Linked DNA regions of Homo sapiens: region 2 is linked to region 1. Evidence: fine-mapped expression QTL. Tissue or cell type: whole blood. Region 1 holds a variant in brackets; the other region holds the start of a gene. All regions are shown on one strand. Distances are between the middles of the regions.

The links. PIP is the estimated chance that this variant, and not a neighbour inherited with it, causes the effect.
Region 2: it holds the start of SUPT20H, and the variant in region 1 is fine-mapped to the expression of SUPT20H in whole blood (INTERVAL, PIP 0.97).

The regions. Positions count from the first base shown.
Region 1 is chr13:37,087,987-37,098,523 of GRCh38, reverse strand. No RefSeq gene overlaps it. Among named protein-coding and RNA genes, the nearest start is that of CSNK1A1L, 12 kb to the left of the region's middle. The variant C/A (reference allele first, on the strand shown) is at 5,153.
Region 2 is chr13:37,054,385-37,064,921 of GRCh38, reverse strand. It overlaps SUPT20H (SPT20 homolog, SAGA complex component), which reads left to right and starts at 5,234. Exons shown (of 26, transcript NM_001014286.3): 1 at 5,234-5,363. RefSeq lists a silencer at 5,063-5,322.

The DNA of each region.
Region 1 (10,537 bases):
TATATGAAAAAACAAAAGGAGCCAAAGACGACTTCTTGATGTTTGGGCTGATTAACTGGAAGGAAGAAGTTACCATAAACTGAGATGGGGTAACAGTCTGTTTTGAGCAAGACAAAATGAGGAGTTCAGTTTTGCTCACGTTGAATTTCAGATGCTTATGAGATGTAGATGCCTCAATGAGGGATTGGGGGTATGCCTAACAGGCAGTGGCTGGAATTTGGCTGGCTTCTCCACCTTATCTACCTCCAACAGGTCCTTTCACGGTCCCCTTAGCCCTTCAGCCTACACTAAATTATTCCCCTTTCCTCGCTTGGGGGATTGAAATATCACAGATCCTTTCATTGCGGATTCCACCTCTGATTCAAGATGTCCCCCTGCTTTGCTTGGGTAGCTACTCAGCAATACTGTGAAAGCTAAAGTAAAAGGGGCAAGCAGAAAATTTTTAAAGGGACCGAAGTATCCTGGAAATAAGTTGGAATTCTTAAATTACATACAAAGAAGTTCTTGAAGTAAGTAAATTGGAAAAGCATCTGGGACTGAAACCTTGCCATCATTAAGACCACTATTTACTGTGAGAAATTTGCATAATTACTGTTTTATAACATCAGCCTGTTCCCTGTGTTTATGTTTATTATTAAACTAATACATTTCAGCTGCTATATCTTGTGGTTTACAAATCATCAGGAGCTTGGGACATTCGTGGTCATGTGAAGAACAAAAAAGATGTCATTCTCCGAATTACAAAACAGTCTTATCGGGAACAAACATAAACATGATGGGCAAAAAAGCAAGGCACTAAATGACCTTGCTTACAGACCTGTGAAGTTTCTACTAGGGCCCAATAAGGAGCAAAGGAAGAACACTCTGTTCTAAATTAGACAACAGTTCTAGTATATGTGTAGGTAAAGATGTGTTCTAATGTTCTGCACTTAAAGACACACTGTGAATCCTGCCTGCCAGTAGTGTACATTCAAAAAAAAGAGGAGCAAAAATACGTATGTGTTGGTGGAATTCTCGACCATTATCATTTCATTTCAAGATGAGCGGAAAAACTACCTGCCCCCATACCTTTCAACGCTCCTTGATAAGTGATAGGGAGCTACTTCTTTTCAGTTTCATGTAGGTTCCTGCAAGTCATTTGCTCCATTATTTGAAGAAACTTTCATTTGAACAAGATTACCCACTCTTTCCGTTGTGCAGTTACACCACTTAAGGCAGAACTAGTCACAGAATAATGCATGCAGTTTTTATAAGTCTTATGTCTGAAAATGCAAATTTTGGAATCTGGACAATTTGTTGCAGATTCCCAGACGATTATTATCTTCAGACAAACTGACTATTTGTGGTCAATGAGTTCATGTTTTATGTCCTTCAAAACGAATGAAAATTACTATCACTCTTTGAATGGCCCTAGAGTAGGGGAGAGGGGCTAAGTTCAGTCTCTGAGGTCAGAGCTCCATTCCAGGCCCAACTCTGCTTCTTTGAGCAGGGTTGACTTTGGCCACAGTTTCATTTCTGTAAACTGAGGTCAGCAATAGGACCTACCAATTATCTGTTGTGTAGATCAAATGATAAATGACACTCTGCATTGTGAATGGCAAACAATAAATGCTCATTAAAAAGTTTCACCCCAGGCCATGCAGGGTGGCTCACGCCTGTAACCCCAGCACTTTGGGAAGCCAAGGTGGACAGATCACTTGAGGTCAGGAGTTCAAATCCAGCCTGGACAACATGGCGAAACCGCATCTGTACTAAAAATACAAAAATTAGCCAGGCATGGTGGGGCATGCCTGTAATCCCAGTTACTCGAGAGGCTGAGGCAGGAGAATTGCTTGAACCCAGGAGGTGGAGGCTGCAGTAAGCTGAGATGGTGCCACTGCACTCCAGCCTGGGCTACAGAGCGAGACTCCATCTCAAAAAAATAAAAAGTTCACTCCTGATATGTGTGGAGCCTGGAGCAAGAATACAAATGAAGACTCATACAGCATAGATTTAAATATTTGAAAGGTAAAAAATCAAGTCAAACCATCAACTAAAATAGGTTCTATTTATTATTGTATCTATTATATAGCCTCATAATTACCTAGGATCCCTTGCAGTTCCACACCAGAATATGGTAGTTAGGAGGGAAGCAGAACTCTTCTTCTTAAGCAACAATTGCCTGTGCTACACTACCAGTGGTACAGACCATACTCAGGAGGATGGAGACTCAAAGGAGGCCCAAAGAGGTCCCAGATACAGCTTGAGAATGTTTGAGCAGAAATCCCAGAGATCTAGGCACCCACATGTCCTTTTGGCCTATGGACTCCTAACCCCACAGAATAAAGGGGTCTAGCAGGCCTCTGAAGCATGGTACCCTGACAAGGACTTCTCTTGACAAGGTCTAGAAGTTGTATGGTTTCTTATTTTTTTGTTTTGTTTTGTTTTGTTTTGTTTTGTTTTTTATTTTATTTTGAGATGAAGTCTCACTCTGTCGCCCAGGCTGGAGTGCAGTGGCCGATTTTGACTCACTGCAACCTCTGCCTCCCCAGTTCAAGTGATACTCCTGCCTCAGCCTCCCAAGTAACTGGGATTACAGGGGCCCACCACCACACCCAGCTAATTTTTTGTATTTTTAGTAGAGACGAGGTTCTGCCACAACTATGGCCTCTTAAGCATGGAGAACAACAGCCATGCACAGTCCTGGCCTCAAATGATCCACCCACCTCAGCCTCCCAAAGTGCTGGGATTACAGGTGTGAGGCACTGTGCCCAGCCTAGAAGTTGTATGTATTATTTTAAATGAATAAATTATTATTATCTGTTATAGAGTAATAAATTTGTTTTTAAAGCTCAAACAAAATAATCTGATAATATGAGATTGAATAAAAAGGGTCGGGCCTAGTGGCTCATGCCTGCAATCCCAGCACTTTGGGAGGCCAAGGAAGGCAGATCACTTGAAGTCAGGAGTTCAAGACCAACCTGGCCAACATGGTGAAACCCCATCTCCATGAAAAATACAAAAATTAACCAGGCGTGGTGGCACGTGCCTGTAATCCCAGGTACTTGGAAGGCTGAGGCAGGAGAATCACTTGAACCCAGAAGGTGGAGGTTGCAGTGAGCCAAGATCATGCCAGTGCACTCCAGCCTGGGCGACAGAGCGAGACTGCATCTCAAAAAAAAACTCTTCTACCACCCATTTATATTATTCTGTCCAAAACAGAAAGGTCCTCATCATGTTATTTTCAAAATGACTTTTTATATATGGGTTGGTAGGTGTGGATATTAAAATTCACACACCATATATTTATACATGCATATTATGGACTGAATTGTGTTCCCCAAAATTGTATGTTGACTTCTCAACCCCCAATGTGACTGTATTTGGAGATAAGGGACTTTAAAGGAGGTAATGAAGGTTCAATGAGGTTATAAGAGCAGGACTTTAATTAAGTATAACTAGTGTCTTTACAAAAAGAGGAAGAGACACCACGATGTGCACACAGAGAAAAGGCCATGTGAGGACGTAGCAAGAAGGCAGCCATCTGCGAGCCTCCAGAGAGGCCTCGAAAAACCAAACCTGCAGACAACTTGATCTTGGACTTCCAGCCTACAGAACTGTGAGAAAATAAAGCCTGTTGTTTAAACAACACAGACTGTGGTATTTTGTTGTGGCAGCCATAGTGAACTAATACACTTATTCTCACAGAAATCTGTGAAACCATTAGCTAGTTTCATTTTGTAGGTAAGAAAATTATCATTGAGATATTTTTGTTATTATAATTTATAAGAATCATTGTCTCTGCTTTCCAGAAAATCTGAGAACATTATCCTCTTAGAGGCAAAAAAAAAAAAAAAAAAGCAATTCAGTTCTATATCTCCCCCAAGATTCCTTATGAAGAAGGTGACCTAGAATTTATCCTCCAAACTGGAACACTTTTGAGAGTGAAAGGGGGTACTGTTAATAATTATGTTAGTATAAAGTTAAAAGTTGGTACTAGTCCACAGCTAGAACAATTGGTCACTATACTTAACAGAGTTTGTTTATTTTATTTATTTTTAGTAAACATTCATTGACAGGATACTAAGCACTAAAGTTACATAAATGAAAACCATGATCTCTGCACCCAAGGAACTCATAATCTATTTAGCAAAAACAGAAAGAATCTGTGTATGTTTTAATGACAACACTGTCATGAGCTCCATAGATACATATCCCAGGAGAAACAAGCTCAGATGAAGCACTAAATCAAGCTTTGAAATGCAGGGGAGAGGAAGGGTCAGGAAACGAAGCCTCGAGGAGCCAGCATTTGAGCAGAAAATACTGAGCCATGGGCTACGTGGCATTTAAGAGCTGAGTATTATAAACAGAGAAAAGTGCAAGTGTAACAGCAAAGTGGTGTATGAGAAAATATGATCCCCAAGTTCACAATCTCAATATAGTAAGCAATCAAGGGTTTAACAGGACCAAAATTACAAGCATTAATAAGGCTACATAGACTGATAAGGCTAAAGCCAATTCAGCCCTTTGAGAAACGCAGGGTCTTTTCGGAAATGTCATTAGCTGCCTGTGCTAGAATTAAGTGGCGTTATCTCCTCCCTTCTCGAAAAGCTGACCACCAAGTGGCATGTTACAATGAAAGCAAATCCCCAGTGAATACCTGGCTTTTATTACGGTTCAAAAGGACCGGTTTGTTATATCCTTCCTCTCTAGATTCAGAATCAATCAAGAAATATGAAAAAAGTCAAATAAGAATCTGAATATATCCCTTATTGTTGGAAAGAGTAGACTGGGACCTCATTTGGAAGTGTAAAAATGTGAGACTTGGTATTTTATTTTAAGTATACAATCAGCAAGAAGAAAAATCTAAACTAAGGGCTTGAGATAGTTTCCTATCTAAAGAGAATGCGCAGAGTTTAAATGTAGGTAAGGTCAATTTTAGTAAGATCAATGAAGTCATAGTCATGGGTTAATTATCAAAAGGTTGGTGCGTAAATTCAATTTCCTATGACAAATAAAATGTATAACTTTAGTGAGCTGACACAATTTCCTACAACAAACACTTGAATAAGACTTAAGGTTAACATAGTCTTAATATTATAGGTTATAACCTTGGGAGATTAAAAATAAAACTGTATTTAATCTTCCTTACCTGAAATGAAATAGTAAATAC[C/A]AGCCTTACACTTTGAATTCTTAAAGCATTTGTGTCAACAATGTTTATTCAGACTCTATAGTTCTTTAATTTTAAACAACTTTGAACTTATCTGCTCAATTCAACAAAATAGCTGGATAATGCCCAGCTGAGAGAGAGAGAGAAAGAACTCTAGCAAACCATAGGCTAGGGTTATATAGTGAACCCTTTGTTCCAATCTCACCAAAAAGTTAAGTCACTCCCCCTCCTGGATATAAGATAGGTTAGAGATGTGGAGAAGGATGAAATATTACTCCTCCCAAATGGGTGCTTCTAAATGGGTGAAAGTGTTGGGGGTGTATGTTCCCATTTTATGACCAGCAGGGACTTGGGAGAGGGAAAAAAATGATTCCCCCAGAGATAAGATTGCTCAGGAAGCATATGAAGAGGAAGAAAAGGAGCCCCATTATGGATTCTTGAAGAAAACAAACAATAAAAGTGTAGTTAGGAAAAATAAAAGCCACCAAAAGAAAAAGGGGTAGCCAGAAAGATAGGAGAAGAAAAAAGGGTGTTGTCTCAGAAGCATCAAGTCAAGTAAATGTCTATTGGAAAGAGTTTCAGCAAGATAAATTGTTCAAGCTTACCAAAGACGACAATCTACAATCATCAAAATAAAGACCACGTGTTATAAGCCCCTGTATGTCAGGAGTATTGCTACATGTGTAGCTCAACCAATCCTCTAAATAGGAGGTATTATTCCCACTTCACGGAGAAGAAAACTGAGATTCAAATGATTCAAATAGTTTAAGCAACTTGACCCGATCACCTCAGACAGAGCTAAACTCATTTCTTTCTGACCACAGAGTATATTATCTTTCTACCATGCTGTGAGGCCTCTGAGAATGTGGGACTTGGCTGATACAGCACACAGGTCTTATGCACCTTGTCAGAGACTCTCAGGGCCAGCAGTAGGCTCTCAGGTGTTCGCCCCTTCCCCTGCAGCCACTCCTGCCACCACAGCCTTCCAACTCCACCGGGATCTCCTATTATCCTGTGCCTGCAGTTGATGAGTTGCTTGTATTAGTACAAACACAGGTAATATTAGTATTTGTATTAGTACTGCACAGATAGTAGCTTTTTTATCTCAGAGTATCTGTGGTCAGCAATCTGGGCTGTTTTCTCTGGCTTTGGGTCACTCATCAGGCTGCATTTAATGTGTCAGTTGGAACTACGTCATACAAGGCTAAACTGAGGAAGAGAGAAAGCTTATGCATATCACTGTTAACAGTATTCAGTTCCTCAGAGCTGTTAGCCAGAGGCCTCTCTTAGCTTCCTGCCACATGGGCTTCCCTGTAGAGCATCCCACAATGTGGCAGGTGGCTTCATCAGAGAAGCCAAAGGAGTATGTGTGCCAATGAGATGAAGTCACAGTCTTTTAAACCTAATCTCAGAAGGGACAGCCCATCACTTTTTCAGTATTGTCTTCATTAGTAGTATATCACTAGAACTAGCCCACACTGAAGAAGGGATCACACAAGGACATAAAGAACAGGAGATGAGGGCTGGGCTTGGTGGCTCATGCCTGTAATCCCAGCACTTTGGGAGGCCGGGGCAGGCAGATCACTTGAAGTCAGGAGTTCCAGACCAGCCTGGCCAACATGGTGAAACCCCGTCTCTACTAAAAATATGAAAATTAGCCTGTCACGGTGACACATGCCTGCAATCCCAGCTGCTCAGGGGGCTGAGGCAGGAGAATTCATTGAATCTGGGAGGCGGAGGTTGCAGTGAGCCGAGACAACAGAGTGAGACTCCATCTCAACAACAACAACAAAAACCCAGGAGGTGGGGACCACTGTGAACCATTTCAGATTTCAGAAGCTGCCTACTCCACCCAGAATCTTGCTTGGCTGTCTCTTCCCACCTTGAAGTTCTGGCTCCTTCTACCATTTCCAGACTTGGAAGAACCACCACAAAGCAAAGCGTAGCATTTTGCTTCCCTGGTAGCTCCTAAAAGTGCTGGCTGATGTTCCTCTGAAGTGAGCAGAGGTTAACTCCCAAGGGGCCAACTCTCACCAGTGGAATGTAAGAGAAAAGAAGGTAAGTTCCCTCTTCTTCCTTTTTCCCATGGTAAGCACAGTGTCTCTGTTCTGCTGCTACAGAGCAAATCAGCCACAAATACAGAGACTGGGATGACTGCCTGGCCCTGCCCCTGCTCAGAGCCCCAACCCTGCCTCCCCACCGCCTTCCCACCTCCACCTGTCTTACCTTGAGCTGACACATCAACACTTCTCCAGCACCTTCACTGGCTCCCTGTCCTTGACGTGGCAGGGGTGCATTTTGCAACTGGGTGCTGAAGTAATGTCCAGGAAGTAATGTGCCCTTTGATGAAGCAACCAATGTTAGCTGCTGCTCATTCCATTTGGCATCTGCAGGGACCATAGGTCATCCTTCACTTGCTTAGATGGGTCCTGAAGGAACTCTGGCCAGTGTTGCCTGGCTGGTGGTCACCACCAGAGGTGCTAGCAGTGCAGGTCCCACTCAACCACCCTGAGGACTGTGGGATTCACTATCTGGGAACACACCTGCTTCTCCTTCACAGCCCACCAGGATACCACAGTACATCAAGAAGAACAGGTGTTGGGGACCAGCCTCATCACCACCCATAGGGTATCCAAAGTCTGGTGGCAATGGAGGAATGAGAAGAGACAGGTTAAGAGTGCATAAAGAGTGGGGACCAGGGGGCCAATTGCAAAATGGAGGCTGTAAAAGGCCCCAAGCTCTGGTCTCCACGCTATTTATTGAATACAGTCACTTAGATCTAAGAAGCAGACATTCAGGGAACGGTGAAAGGGAGACAGTGCATCATACACATAATCTATAACAGTGGTGGTTTAAATTAATCTCCTTTGTGCTCAAACAGCATATCTTTAATTTATCGGAGAGTAGCTAGTGGGAGCAGGCTTAACTAGGATCCTGCACGTCTGGCCACATTCCAATGTTCAAAGGAGTGTCTTTCTCCTTGAACACAGTGTTTATGGATAAGAGAGCAAGTCTCGCTCAGAGCATGGGAACATAATGGCGATAAGAAGGCTTTCCTCCTCAGAGGCCTCTTGTGGCTTTCCACAACTTATTGTCCCATATTTTTATGGCCAGTTTATACAGGCACCCTGTAAGCCTTTCCCCCAACAAACAGGTGCCAGGGTGACATGACACATATACTACAGATCATTGGGTTTGGTCCTCAATTAAGTGGAGTTTCAGTAGAGCTGGGGACAGGCAGAGAATTAAGGACCTGAGGTTTAATCTTGATGCTGCAAAGCCTAATATTCAATCAGAATCGGAAATAATTAGTACATCAATAAATGCATTATTCAGGGTTTCCAGAGAAACAGAACTAACAGGAGATGTATATATATATATATATATATATATATATATATATAGAGAGAGAGAGAGAGAGAGAGAGAGAGAGAGAGAGAGAGAGAGAGAGAGACAGAGAGAGAGACAGAGAGACAGAGAGACAGAGAGAGATTGATTTAATTTTAAGGAATTGGCTCACATAATTGCAGAAGCTTTGCAAGTCCAAAATCTGGAGGGTAAACTTGCAGGCTGGAGACCCAAGGAAGAGCAGCAGTCTGATTCCAGAAGCCATCTGCTGGCAGAATTCCGTCTTGCTGAGGGGTGGGCATCTCTGTTCTGTTTAGGCCTTCAACTGATTGGATGAGGCCCGCCCACATTATGGAGGGTTATCTGCTTTACTCAAAGTTCAACAGTTAAAATGTTAATCTCATCCAAAAAACACCTTCACGGAAAGATCCAGAATAAATTTTGACCAACTGTATAGGCACCATGGCCCATACAAACTGACTCATAAAATTAACCATCACAATAGGATATCAAATATTCCTTTGTGTTGAAAGCCCAGATCCACCATTTTCTCCTTAAGGAGGAATAGCTTCAAATTGGCCCAGAATTTCACCAAACGGTTTCTCTTTGGTGCTTTGAGTCCCAAGATGAGAGTATTTTTTCTCTTGCGTTTTCGACTCCACATACTTTTTGTCCAGTAGCTGTATATAGCCTTCTTGTAAGAATCCAGCCCTCCAATTTATAAAACTAAAATAGGAAGTAATCTTTAGAAGCACTCTGCTAAACTTAATGCTGGAAATTCTGGAACTGTATTGGGATCTAGGGACTCAGAGAATAAATTACATAACTTTCCCTCCTGCCTTTGTATTTAATGAAATGTTTGTTCTCATGTGACAGAGGGGACAAAACTGGAAGGTGACCAGGGAATATATTGTAATAGCAGAGCTTATACAAAAATTAATACAAAAATTAGCCAGTCATGGTGGTGCACTTCTGTAATCCCAGCTACTCGGGAGGCTGAGGCAGGAGAATCCCTTGAACCAGGAGGCAGAGATTGCAATGAGCCGAAATCATGCTACTGTACTCCAGCCTGGGCCACAGAACAAGACTCAGTCTCAAAAAAAAAAAACTAAAAATTCAGATTTCTCATGTCCCTCCCCAGGTAGCTTGACTTGGTAAGTGGTTCTGGGAAGGGACCTGGAATCTGTTTGTGAAACTGTTGAGCAAGTTCAGAAACTCTGTGGCAATAAAGAACCGGCAGAGAGGGAGGAAGCAAATGACCCCTGCCTTGGGGCCAGGACTCACCCATATTCTTACTCTCTGACCCCTCAAAGCCATGGTACCTGTGACTGCAAGTTCTTTCCTCTCCTTCTAGAACTAAATGTGTGTCTACTAAAACATCTGCGGCATCACTATTACTTATTTGAACTGTCTCTTTACCTGCCTGTGCTACCCATACGTAACAAAGACAAAGTCCTCCTTGAAGATTAGCCAGATGCCTGTTTCTCTGAGGTAGGCTTAGGTCTTTTGGCTACAGATCAAAACTGTCAATAACTTTACTGTCACTCTGAACTGTTGGTCTATCGTGAGATTCCTGGGAATTGTCTAGAGAAATGATTGAAATAGACTTTTGCTTTCCTTCAGCTTTGGCTCAGTCCTTACAGATTTCCCAAATCCCTCTTGACTTGATGAACATTGATTAGATTCCTCTTCTTCCTCATCTCCCAGTTATCAATGTTATTTTGTTACTTTTGCTTTTCATGTTTCTACACTACCAATAACTTTAAGTACGCCAGTGCTTGATTTCAGCCTCACATCCTTCCTTTCAGGAGTCCTATTTTCTCTGTTCCATGCAATTCCAACCATCAGACCTCCCTACATTCACTGCTAAAGATTCAGCCTTGCCAGTCAGACCTCCCATTTCCCAGGTTTCAATGAGTGCTTGATTGGTTCAGAGTAAACTCATATCTCACGCAAGACTAATCAGAGTTATTTTTGTTTTTTGAGAGACTGATGCGGATGCAGAAATTGTAGAGAATACTTAAGAGTTAGAAGAAAAAT
Region 2 (10,537 bases), 34 kb after region 1:
CCTCAACTGCTAGTGGATCTGTTCATATTCCAATGGCCAAAATGAGTCACATAGCCACATGCAAAATCACCATGAGGAAGTATACTGTGCCCACACTGAAGCCATGGGAAGGAGAGTGAGAAATAAAAATGTTTTAAAATCCTGTGAACTAACACTACTATCTACCACATTGAATGTGATGGTTAATTTTACATGTCAATTTTTCTAGGCTACAGTACACAATCAAACATTAATCTAGGTCTTGCTGTGAAGGTATTTTGAAGATACATTTAATATCTATAATCAGTTGACTTTAGGTAAAGGAGACTAATCTTGATAATGTGGGTGGAACTTATTCAATTAGCTGAAGGCTGTAAGAGCAAAATCTGAGATTACTCAGAGAAAAAGAAATTCTGCCTCAAGACTGCAGCATCAACTCTTGCCTGAGATTCCAGCCTACTCAGCTGCCCAACAGATTTCAGACTTGCCAGCTTCCATAATCACGTGAGCAAAATATTTAAAATGAAGGGATGGCTCTGGTCAGAGCAATTAACCAAGGAAAAGAAATGAAAGTGTTCAAATTGGGAGAAAAAAAGTATAACTATCTCAGTTCACAGATTACATGATTCTATATATAGAAATCCTAAAGAATATACACATGTAGGCACACATACAAAATTAATAGAGCTAATAAGTAAATGTTCAGAGTACAAGGCCAACACTTGCTATGGTTTGAATATATCCCCCCAAAGGACGTGCTAGAAACTTAACCCATAATGCAACAATGTTGGGTGGTAAGGCCTAATGTAAGTTGTTTAGGTCATGAGGTCTCACCCTCATGAATAGATTAATGCCAATTGTAAAAGAACTTGAGGCTTCAAGTTTGATCCCTTGCTCTCTAGCCCTCTCTTTGTCCTTCCACCATGGGATAACATACATACCAAGTAGGCTCTCACCAGATGCTAGCCCTTCAATCTTAGAATCTTCAGCATCCAGAACCGTGAGCCAATAAACTTCTGTTTATTATATGTTACCCAGTCTGTAGTATTCTGTTACAGCAGCAGAAAATAGACTAAGAGAATACCCCAAAATCAATTGTGTTTCTATACATCAGCAATCACCAATCTGGAAAATTAAAAACAATTTCATTTATAATAGCATTTGCTAAGAACTAAATATGTCCCCTCAAAATTCACATATTGAAGCTCAAACCCCCAGTGTCACTGTATTTGGAGATGGGACCTATATAAGAAGGTAACTGAGGTTAAATTGATCACAAGAGTGGAGTTCTGATGCTATAGATTAGTATCTTTATAAAAAAAAAAAACAACAAAAACGACCAGATATCTTTCTCTGTGTGTTTCTCTGTCTGTTTCCCTTTCCTTCTCCCGCTTCCTTTATCATATGAGAATGCAGAAAGAAGGTGGCTATCTACTCGCCAGTAAAAGAGCCCTCACCAGAAACCAAATTGGCAAGCACCTTGATCTTGGACTGCACAGCCTCTAGAACTATGAGAAATAAATTTCTGTCGCTTAGGCCATTCAGTTTATGGTATTTTGTTATGGCGGCTTGAGCAAACTAAGATAGATTTTGCTACCAAGAAGTTGCATGTTGCTTTAATAAAACCTAAACATGTGAAAGTGGTTTTGGAACTAGGTAATGGGTAGAGGCTGAAAGAATTCTGAGGTGCATGCTAGAAAAAGCCTAGATTTCCATGCTAGAAATATGGATGTTAAAGGCAATTCTGGTAAGAACTCAGAAATACAGTTGAAGAGAAAGCCTCCATCTTCTTAGAGAAAACATAATCATGAACACAATTTTGGTAAATATATGTTTGTTAAAGGCCATTCTTGTGAGGTCTCAGATGGAAATGAAGAATGGGTCACTGGAAGACAGAAGAAAGGCAGTCCTTGTTATAAAGTAGCAAATAACTTGGCTGACTTGTTTTCTAGTGTTTTCTGGCAGACAGAATTTGTGAATGATAAAATTGAATATTTAACTGAGATTTTTAAGCAAAATGCTGAAAGTGCGACCTGGATCTTCCTGAATGCTTATAGTAAAATGCAAGAAGAGATGAATGAAAGAAGAAATTATTAAGCAAAAAGGAACCAAGACTCAAATATTTGGAAAATTATCTGCCTGTCATGTTGCAGAAAATGAGAAAGTACATTCTAAAGAAAACACCAAAGGTATGGTTAGACTATCATTTGATAAATAAATGATGAGATTATATGAGCAGAAACACTGCCTGTTTCAACTGAAGGGGATGCAGACAAGACAAAAATGACAGAAGGCTTTTACATGTCCTAGATTCTACAGGACAGGACAATAGAGCTATCCAGCTGCTAACTTTGTACTATTCCTTTTTTTTTTTTTTTTTGAGACAGATTCTCACTCCATTGCCCAGGCTAGAGTGCAATGGCGGGATCTCAGCTCACTGCAACTTTCACCTCCCAGGTTCAAGTGATTCTCCTTCCTCAGCCTCCCAAGTAGCTGAGATTATAGGCATGCACCACCAGGCCAGGCTAATTTTTGTATATTTAGTAGAGATGGGGTTTCACTATGTTGTCCAGGCTGGTCTCAAACTCCTGACCTCGTGATCTGCCCACCTTGGCCTCCCAAAGTGTTGGGAGTACAGGCGTGAGCCACCGCACCTGGCCAAACTTGTGCTATTCTTTAAGAAAAGGGGAGAATGACCTCAAAGCAATTCAGATGTTATCAAGGCCATTACCTAGCAAAACTTTTGGGATGAGACTCTGCCTGGAAGAGCATGCCTGGCAGAGTGTGGGGAGAGGTATAGCATCCACCTAGGGTCCAGAAGGCAGGGCCACCACCCTTGTAGGTCTGGAAGGCAGGGCACTGAATCAAAATGGATTATTCTTGAGCCTTAAAATCTACTAGAATTTGCCTTGCTAGATTTTTGGACTTGCTTGGGACCTGTCATCCCTTCCTTTTTGCCTATTTCTTTTATTTCCTTCCTTTCTTGCTCCTATTTTTGTTTGTTTGTTTGTTTGGAATGCCTATTCTATGCCTGTTCTGCCATTGTATTTTGGAAGCAAACAACTTCCCTGGTTTTACAGTTTCATAGCTGGGGAGAAAATTTGCATCAGGATGAATCATATCTCAAGTCTCACCCTTATCTGTTTTAGGTGATATTTAGAAGAGACTTCGGACTTCAGATTTTAGAGTTGATGCTTTTGAGACTGTTGAAGTGGTATGAATGTATTTTGTATTCAATAAGGACATGAATTGCAGGGGTACAGAAGTCTGTTGACCAAATTATATCTCCACAAAATTCATATATGTAACCCCAAACCCCAATGTCACTGTATTGGAGATAAGATCTATAAGGAGGTAATTAAGGTTTAAGAAGATCATAAAGGTGGGGCCCTTATCCAATAGAATTAGTTACTCATAAGAAGAGACATGAAAGCTAGTGTGCTTGCACAATGGATTCTTGGTGATGACACCAAAAGCACAAGTAACAAAATAGATAAATTAGATTTCATCAAAATTAAAAAGGTTTGTACACTGAAGGATATTACAAAGAAAGTGAAAAGACAACCTACAGAATGGGAGAAAGTATCCACCAATGATATATCTCATAAGGGTCTAATATCCAGAATATATGACTACACATAACTAACAACAAAAACACAAACAACTCAATTTAAAAATGGGGAAATACCTGAATAGAGAGTTCTCCAAAGAAGATATACAAATGGCTAACAAGGGCATGAAAAGATGCTCAAGATAACTAGCCATTAGGGAATGCAAATCAAACCCACAATAAAATACCACTTTATACCCTTTGGGATGGTTACTATCAAAGGAATAGAAAATTATGGTGTTAGTGAGGATGTGGAGAAATTGGAATCCCCCGACAATGCTCTTGGTATGTAAAATGAATGGTTCAGCTGCTGTAGAAACATTTGTTTATGGGTTCCTCAAATATTTTCACGTAGAATTACTATAAGACCCAGAAGTTCCACTATGTTTATACCCAAAAGAATTGAAAACAGGGACTCGAACAAATACTTGTATACAAATGTTCATATCATTGCTATTCACAATAGCCCGAAAGTGGAAACAACCCAAATGTCCATCAGTGGATGGACAGGTAAAACTGTGGCATCTAGGTACAGTGGAATAGTAGCCATAAAGAGACATGAAGTACCGATACATGCAACAAGGTGTACAAGGTGAACCTGCAAAAGATTATGCTACGAAGACAGACCAAAAGGTCACACATTCCATTTATATGAAATATCCGTAATAGGTACCACAGTTTGAAAGCTGATTGGCATTTGCCAGGGGCTGAGAGAGGGAGGAATGGGAGTAACCACTTAATGTGTTCGGATTTTATTTTGGAGTGTACTTTAATACACTTATAATGTGTGCAACCACTAACTCTAATTCCAAGACACTTTCATTCATTATGACCCTTGGCATTGTGAACGGCAAATAATAAATGCTCATTAAAAAGATTCACCCCAGGCCGTGCATGATGGCTCACGCCTGTAATCCCAGCACTTTGGGAGGCCAAGGCGGGTGGATCACTTGAGATGAGGAGTTCAAGAGCAGCCTGCCCAACATAGTGAAACAGTCTCTACTAAAAATACAAAAATTAGCCGGGTGTGGTGGTGCACGCCTATAATCCCAGCTACTCCGGAGACTGAGGCAGGGAGAATCGCTTGAACCCAGGAGGCAAAGGTTGCAGTTAGCTGAGATTTCTCCACTCCACTCCAGCCTGGGCGACAGAGCGAGACTCTGTCTGAAAAACAAACGAACAAACAAAACAAAACAGACCTTACAATGTGTGCTAGTAATGCGGTTTCTGAATTTTTAGAACCCTTCTCTGGGGTGGTTTTTTTAAAAACATAAACTCATTGGCAGTTGATATACTACAGAAGGTTGTACGCATTGGACTAGTAAATGTAGGTAACGGTGTCGCTGTTTTTCCATTTGTATGTGCTAAGCAAAGAGAAAAGCTAGTTCTATGTTTCTTCCACTCTAGAAATTCAACAGGGTCGTTTTTCCCCAAATTCACATCTACACCCTCCCTCCCACTTTGCGGACTCGGACTCCAGGATTGAGCAGAGATCCTGGGCCCCGCCTCCCGCCCGGACGCAAGTCTCTGCGGGCCTCACCGGCGTCCTGCGCGGAACGCAGCGCTCCAGGCTCCTGGCAGCGGCCCCGCCCTCCCGGCTCCTCCCCTTCCGCCCGCCTTCCCCGCCCCTCGGCCCAGCCTGCCAATCGGAAGTGCGGCCGCCGGAACTGGCTGTTGGTGGGGGTGCAGCACTGAGCCGCCGACGGGGCGGGTGGGCTTTGCTGCCGAGCAGGCGGCGCCGTCTTGGGGCCTAGCGGCGAGGCGACCCGCACAGGTGGGCGGTGGCGGTAGGTGGGTGGCCAGCGACTGGCAACGCGGTGGCTTAGACGCGCGAGATCCGGCCAGGGTCAGAGGTGAGCGGGCCGCATCCCAGAGCCCGCTGGAGGAAGACGGGGTCCCCAGAGACCCGGCAGGCCGGGGCGGAGGTTGAGGCAGCTAAACTCCAGGTGGACGCCTACATCGCCTTTCGCGGTGTTGCTAAGCCGAACTTTTAATTTTAGTTTGACTTTTGGGTTCCAGAGACGGGTATTTCCGGACACTGGCAAGAATTTTGCCTTGCGTGTCTTCGAAGGCGGTTTTCTTGGTGTCCATATTGCATAAAGGCTTGTCGCTCCTCTGTGGAGATGACGGTTGTACAGGTAAAGCCTAAGTTGTGACAAAAGCTCCTGCAATGGGAAGACTCTGGTCGATCAGGGAAATCAGTAGAATTGATAGCAACGCGTAGAATTGATAGCAACGCTTAGAATTGGATTAATTACTGGCCATGGTTACCCGGCGCTCAGAAATGAACTTGGAGAACAGTTGCCCTGGAAGCCATCTCCCGTAGCCACTGCGTAGTGGGGGCCGCGTCTTCTTGAGTGCAATTCATCAAAGTCTCTAGTAGGACTCAAAATATAAAGTGACGAGCAGGATTTTCGGAGTCGAGTACAGTGTACTTGGGTTGATCACCATGTTATAAAGTTAGATCCAAATTAAGAAATACATATTCGTCTCTGAGCAGAATTGGGTCCTTTTTTTAATTGCTTTGCTTTTTTTAAAGAAATGTAAAAACAGATGCCGGTTTGATTAGTTTGCAGGTTGTAATATTGGAAGGGACCTAAGATTGGACACAGAGTTCTGAATTCTGATCTAGGTCTGTGATGTTAGGAAAGTCAGTTGTTCTGATTGCCTTATTCTGTAAAACGGAAATGATAATGATTACAGTTTCCTCACAGGTTCTAGTAAATTCTGTGTATAGACAGAATGTTTGCTTTGTGAGAGATATGAAGTTATTAGTTTTTGTCTGAAGTACTTAAATAATTTAAAGTTAGTAAGCCCCCATCCCCAATTTAGTGACAAGAAATCTTAAAGTCATCACATTTTGTCCGAAAAGTACATAGTGTATCTTCATCTTCAAATTCAGTGGTCAGAAAATTTTCACGTTCACCTAAATTCAACTTAAACCTCCTACGAGCTTTTCAAGGGTAGGAGTAATATCTTACTCATTGTAAATGATCGTAAATCATTTACAGTTGTATGGTGCTTGTGTTTGTGTTGTATTAGGAGGTTAGTCCATTTTTTAAAGTTTCAGACGGAGTTTCACTCTTGTTGTCCAGGCTGGAGTGCAATGGGGCGATCCTGGCTCACTGCAACCTCTGCCTCCCAGTTCAAGCCATTCTCCTGCCTCAGCCTCCGGAGTAGCTGGGATTACAGGTGTGTGCCAACACACCCGGCTAATTTTTAATTTTTTTAGTAGAGACTGGGTTTCACCATTGTTGGTCAGGCTGGTCTCGAATTCCTGACCTCAAGTGACCCACCCGCTTCTGCCTCTTACAGGCCTGAGCCACCGCCCCAGCCAACTTTTTTTTTTTTTTTTTTTTGAGACGGAGTCTCTCTATGTCGTCCAGGCTGCAGTGCAGTGGCGCGATCTTCGCTCACTGCAGCCTCCACCTCCCAGGTTCAAGTGATTCTCTTGCCTCAGCCTCCTGAGTAGCTGGGATTTCAGGTGTACGCCACCACACCCGGCTGATTTTTGTGTTTTTAGTAGAGACGGGGTTTCGCCATGTTGTCCAGGCTGGTCTCGAACTCCAGGGCTGAAGCAATCCACCTGCCTTGGCCTCCCAAAGTGCTGGGATTATAGGTGTGAGCCACTGCACCCGGCCTTCTGTATTTTTTTGTAGAGACACTTTCCCCATGTTGCTCAGGCAGGTCTGGAACTACTGCTCCTGGGCTCAGGCCATCTGGCAGCCTCTGCCTCCCAAAGTGCTGGGATTACTGGCGTGAGCCACACCCCACCTGGCCCTTTCCTTTTTTTTTTTTTTTTTTTTTTAATGGCTTGGCAAAAAACAAAGCTTTGGGGTTCACCAAAAATCAAAGCAAAACTGTTTTACCTGGAAAATCTTGTTTTCTGTCATCAGAAGTTGTGCTTTAGTTCAGCTGTGTAGACACCCAGTAGTGGTTACATGAAGTTAGGTGAATAGATTAAAAATAATTTTTATTTGTCATCAGTCTCAGAGCAAATGTTTTCTATTTATTTTTATTTCTAACTTTTTTTTTTTTGAGACAGGGTCTTGCTCTTTTACCCAGGCTGGAGTACAGTGGTGTGATCATGGCTCACTGCAGCCTCTATTTCCCAAGCTTAAGTGATCCTCCTGCCTCAGCCTACCGAGTAGCTGGGACCTGTGCCACCATGCTGGACTAATTTTTTTTTCTTCCCTTAGTAGTGACAAGTCTCACTATGTTGCCCAGGCTGGTCTCAAACTCCTCAGCTCAGATGATCCTCTCACCTGGGCCTCCCAAAGTCCTGGGGTTACAGGTGTGAACCACCATGCCCAGTCTTATCTCAGAGCAAATGTTACGCACCATCCTTTGCTAGGCAGAGTGAGCTTCAACCCTGGCAGCACGTTTGACTCGTCTGGGGAGCTCCAAAAATGGGGACTGTGCCTCACTCTAGACCACTTAATCAGTCTCAAGCAGGTGGGTCACAGGCATCCCACAGTTTGAAGCTCTGCAAGTTACTCTTGTGCAGCCAGGATAAGAACTCCTGTAGTTATAGAAAAGAAGATTTTCTTTTTTTTTTTTTCTTTTTATTATACTTTAAGTTTTAGGGTACATGTGCACAACGTGCAGGTTTGTTACATATGTATACATGTGCCATGTTGGTGTGCTGCACCCATTAACTTGTCATTTAACATTAGGTATATCTCCTCATGCTATCCCTCCCCCCTCCTCCCACCCCAAAACAGGCCCTGGTGTGTGAAGTTCCCCTTCCTGTGTCCATGAGTTCTCATTGCTCAATTCTCACCTATGAGTGAGAACATGCAGTGTTTGGTTTTTTGTCCTTGCGATAGTTTGCTGAGAATGATGGTTTCCAGCTTCATCCATGTCACTGCAAAGGACATGAACTCATCATTTTTTATGGCTGCATAGTATTCCATGGTGTATATGTGCCACATTTTCTTAATCCAGTCTATCATTGTTGGACATTTGGGTTGGTTCCAAGTCTTTGCTACTGTAAATAGTGCTGCAATAAACATACGTGTGCATGTGTCTTTATAGCAACATGTTTTATAATCCTTTGGGTATATACCCAGTAATGGGATGGCTGGGTCAAATGGTATTTCTACTTCTAGATCCTTGAGGAATCGCCACACTGACTTCCACAATGGTTGAGCTAGTTTACAGTCCCACCAACAATGTAAAAGTGTTCCTATTTCTCCACATCCTCTCCAGCACCTGTTGTTTCCTGACTTTTTAATGATCGCTATTCTAACTGGTGTGAGATGGTATCTCATTGTGGTTTTGATTTGCATTTCTCTGATGGCCAGTGATGAGCATTTTTTCATGTGTCTTTTGGCTGTATAAATGTCTTCTTTTCAGAAGTGTCTGTTCATATCCTTCGCCCACTGATTGATGGGGTTGTTTGTTTTTTCCTTGGAAGTTTGTTTGAGTTCATTGTAGATTCTGGATATTAGCCCTTTGTCAGATGAGTAGATTGCAAACATTTTCTCCCATTCTGTAGGTTGCCTGTTCACTCTGATGGTAGTTTCTTTTGCTGTGCAGAAGCTCTTTAGTTTAATTAGATCCCATTTGTCAATTTTGGCTTTTGTTGCTATTGCTTTTGGTGTTTTAGACATGAAGTCCTTGCCCTCGCCTATGTCCTGAATGGTATTGCCTAGGTTTTCTTCTAGGGTTTTTATGGTTTTAGGTCTAACATTTAAGTCTTTAATCCATCTTGAATTAATTTTTGTGTAAGGGCTAAGGAAGGGATCCAGTTTCAGCTTTCTACATATGGCTAGCCAGTTTTCCCAGCACCATTTATTAAATAGGGAATCCTTTCCCCATTGCTTGTTTTGGTCAGGTTTGTCAAAGATCAGATGGTTGTAGATATGTGGCATTATTTCTGAGGGCTCTGTTCTGTTCCATTGGTCTATATCTCTGTTTTGGTACAAGTACCATGCTGTTTTGGTTAATGTAGCCTTGTAGTATAGTTTGAAGTCAGGTAGCGTGATGCCTCCAGCTTTGTCTTTTGGCTTAGGATTGACTTGGCAATGTGGGCTCTTTTTTGGTTCCATATGAACTTTAAAGTAGTTTTTTCCAATTCTGTGAAGAAAGTCATTGGTAGCTTGATGGGGATGGCGTTGAATCTATAAATTACCTTGAGCAATATGGCGATTTTCACGATATTGATTCTTCCTACTCATAAGCATGGAATGTTCTTCCATTTGTTTGTATCCTCTTTTATTTCCTTGAGCAGTGGTTTGTAGTTCTCCTTGAAGAGGTCCTTCACATCCCTTGTAAGTTGTATTCCTAGGTATTTTATTCTCTTTGAAGCAATTGTGAATGGGAATTCACTCATGATTTGGCTCTGTGTTTGTCTGTTATTGGTGTATAAGAATGCTTGTGATTTTTGCACATTGATTTTGTATCCTGAGACTTTGCTGAAGTTGCCTATCAGCTTAAGGAGTTTTTGGTCTGAGACAATGGGGTTTTCTAGATATACAATCATGTCATCTGCAAACAGGGACAATTTGACTTCCTCTTTTCCTAATTGAATACCCTTTATTTCCTTCTCCTGCCTAATTGCCCTGGCCAGAACTTCCAACACTATGTTGAATAGGAGTAGTGAGAGAGGTCATCCCTGTCTTGTGCCAGTTTTCAAAGGGAATGCTTCCAGTTTTTGCCCATTCAGTATGATATTGGCTGTGGGTTTGTCATAAATAGCTCTTATTATTTTGAGATACGTCCCATCAATACCTAATTTATTGAGAGTTTTTAGCATGAAGCGTTGTTGAATTTCGTCAAAGGCCTTTTCTGCATCTATTGAGATAATCGTGGTTTTTGTCATGGGTTCTGTTCATATGCTGGATTACGTTTATTGATTTGCGTATGTTGAACCAGCCTTGCATCCCATGGATGAAGCCCACTTGATCATGGTGGATAAGCTTTTTGATGTGCTGCTGGATTCGA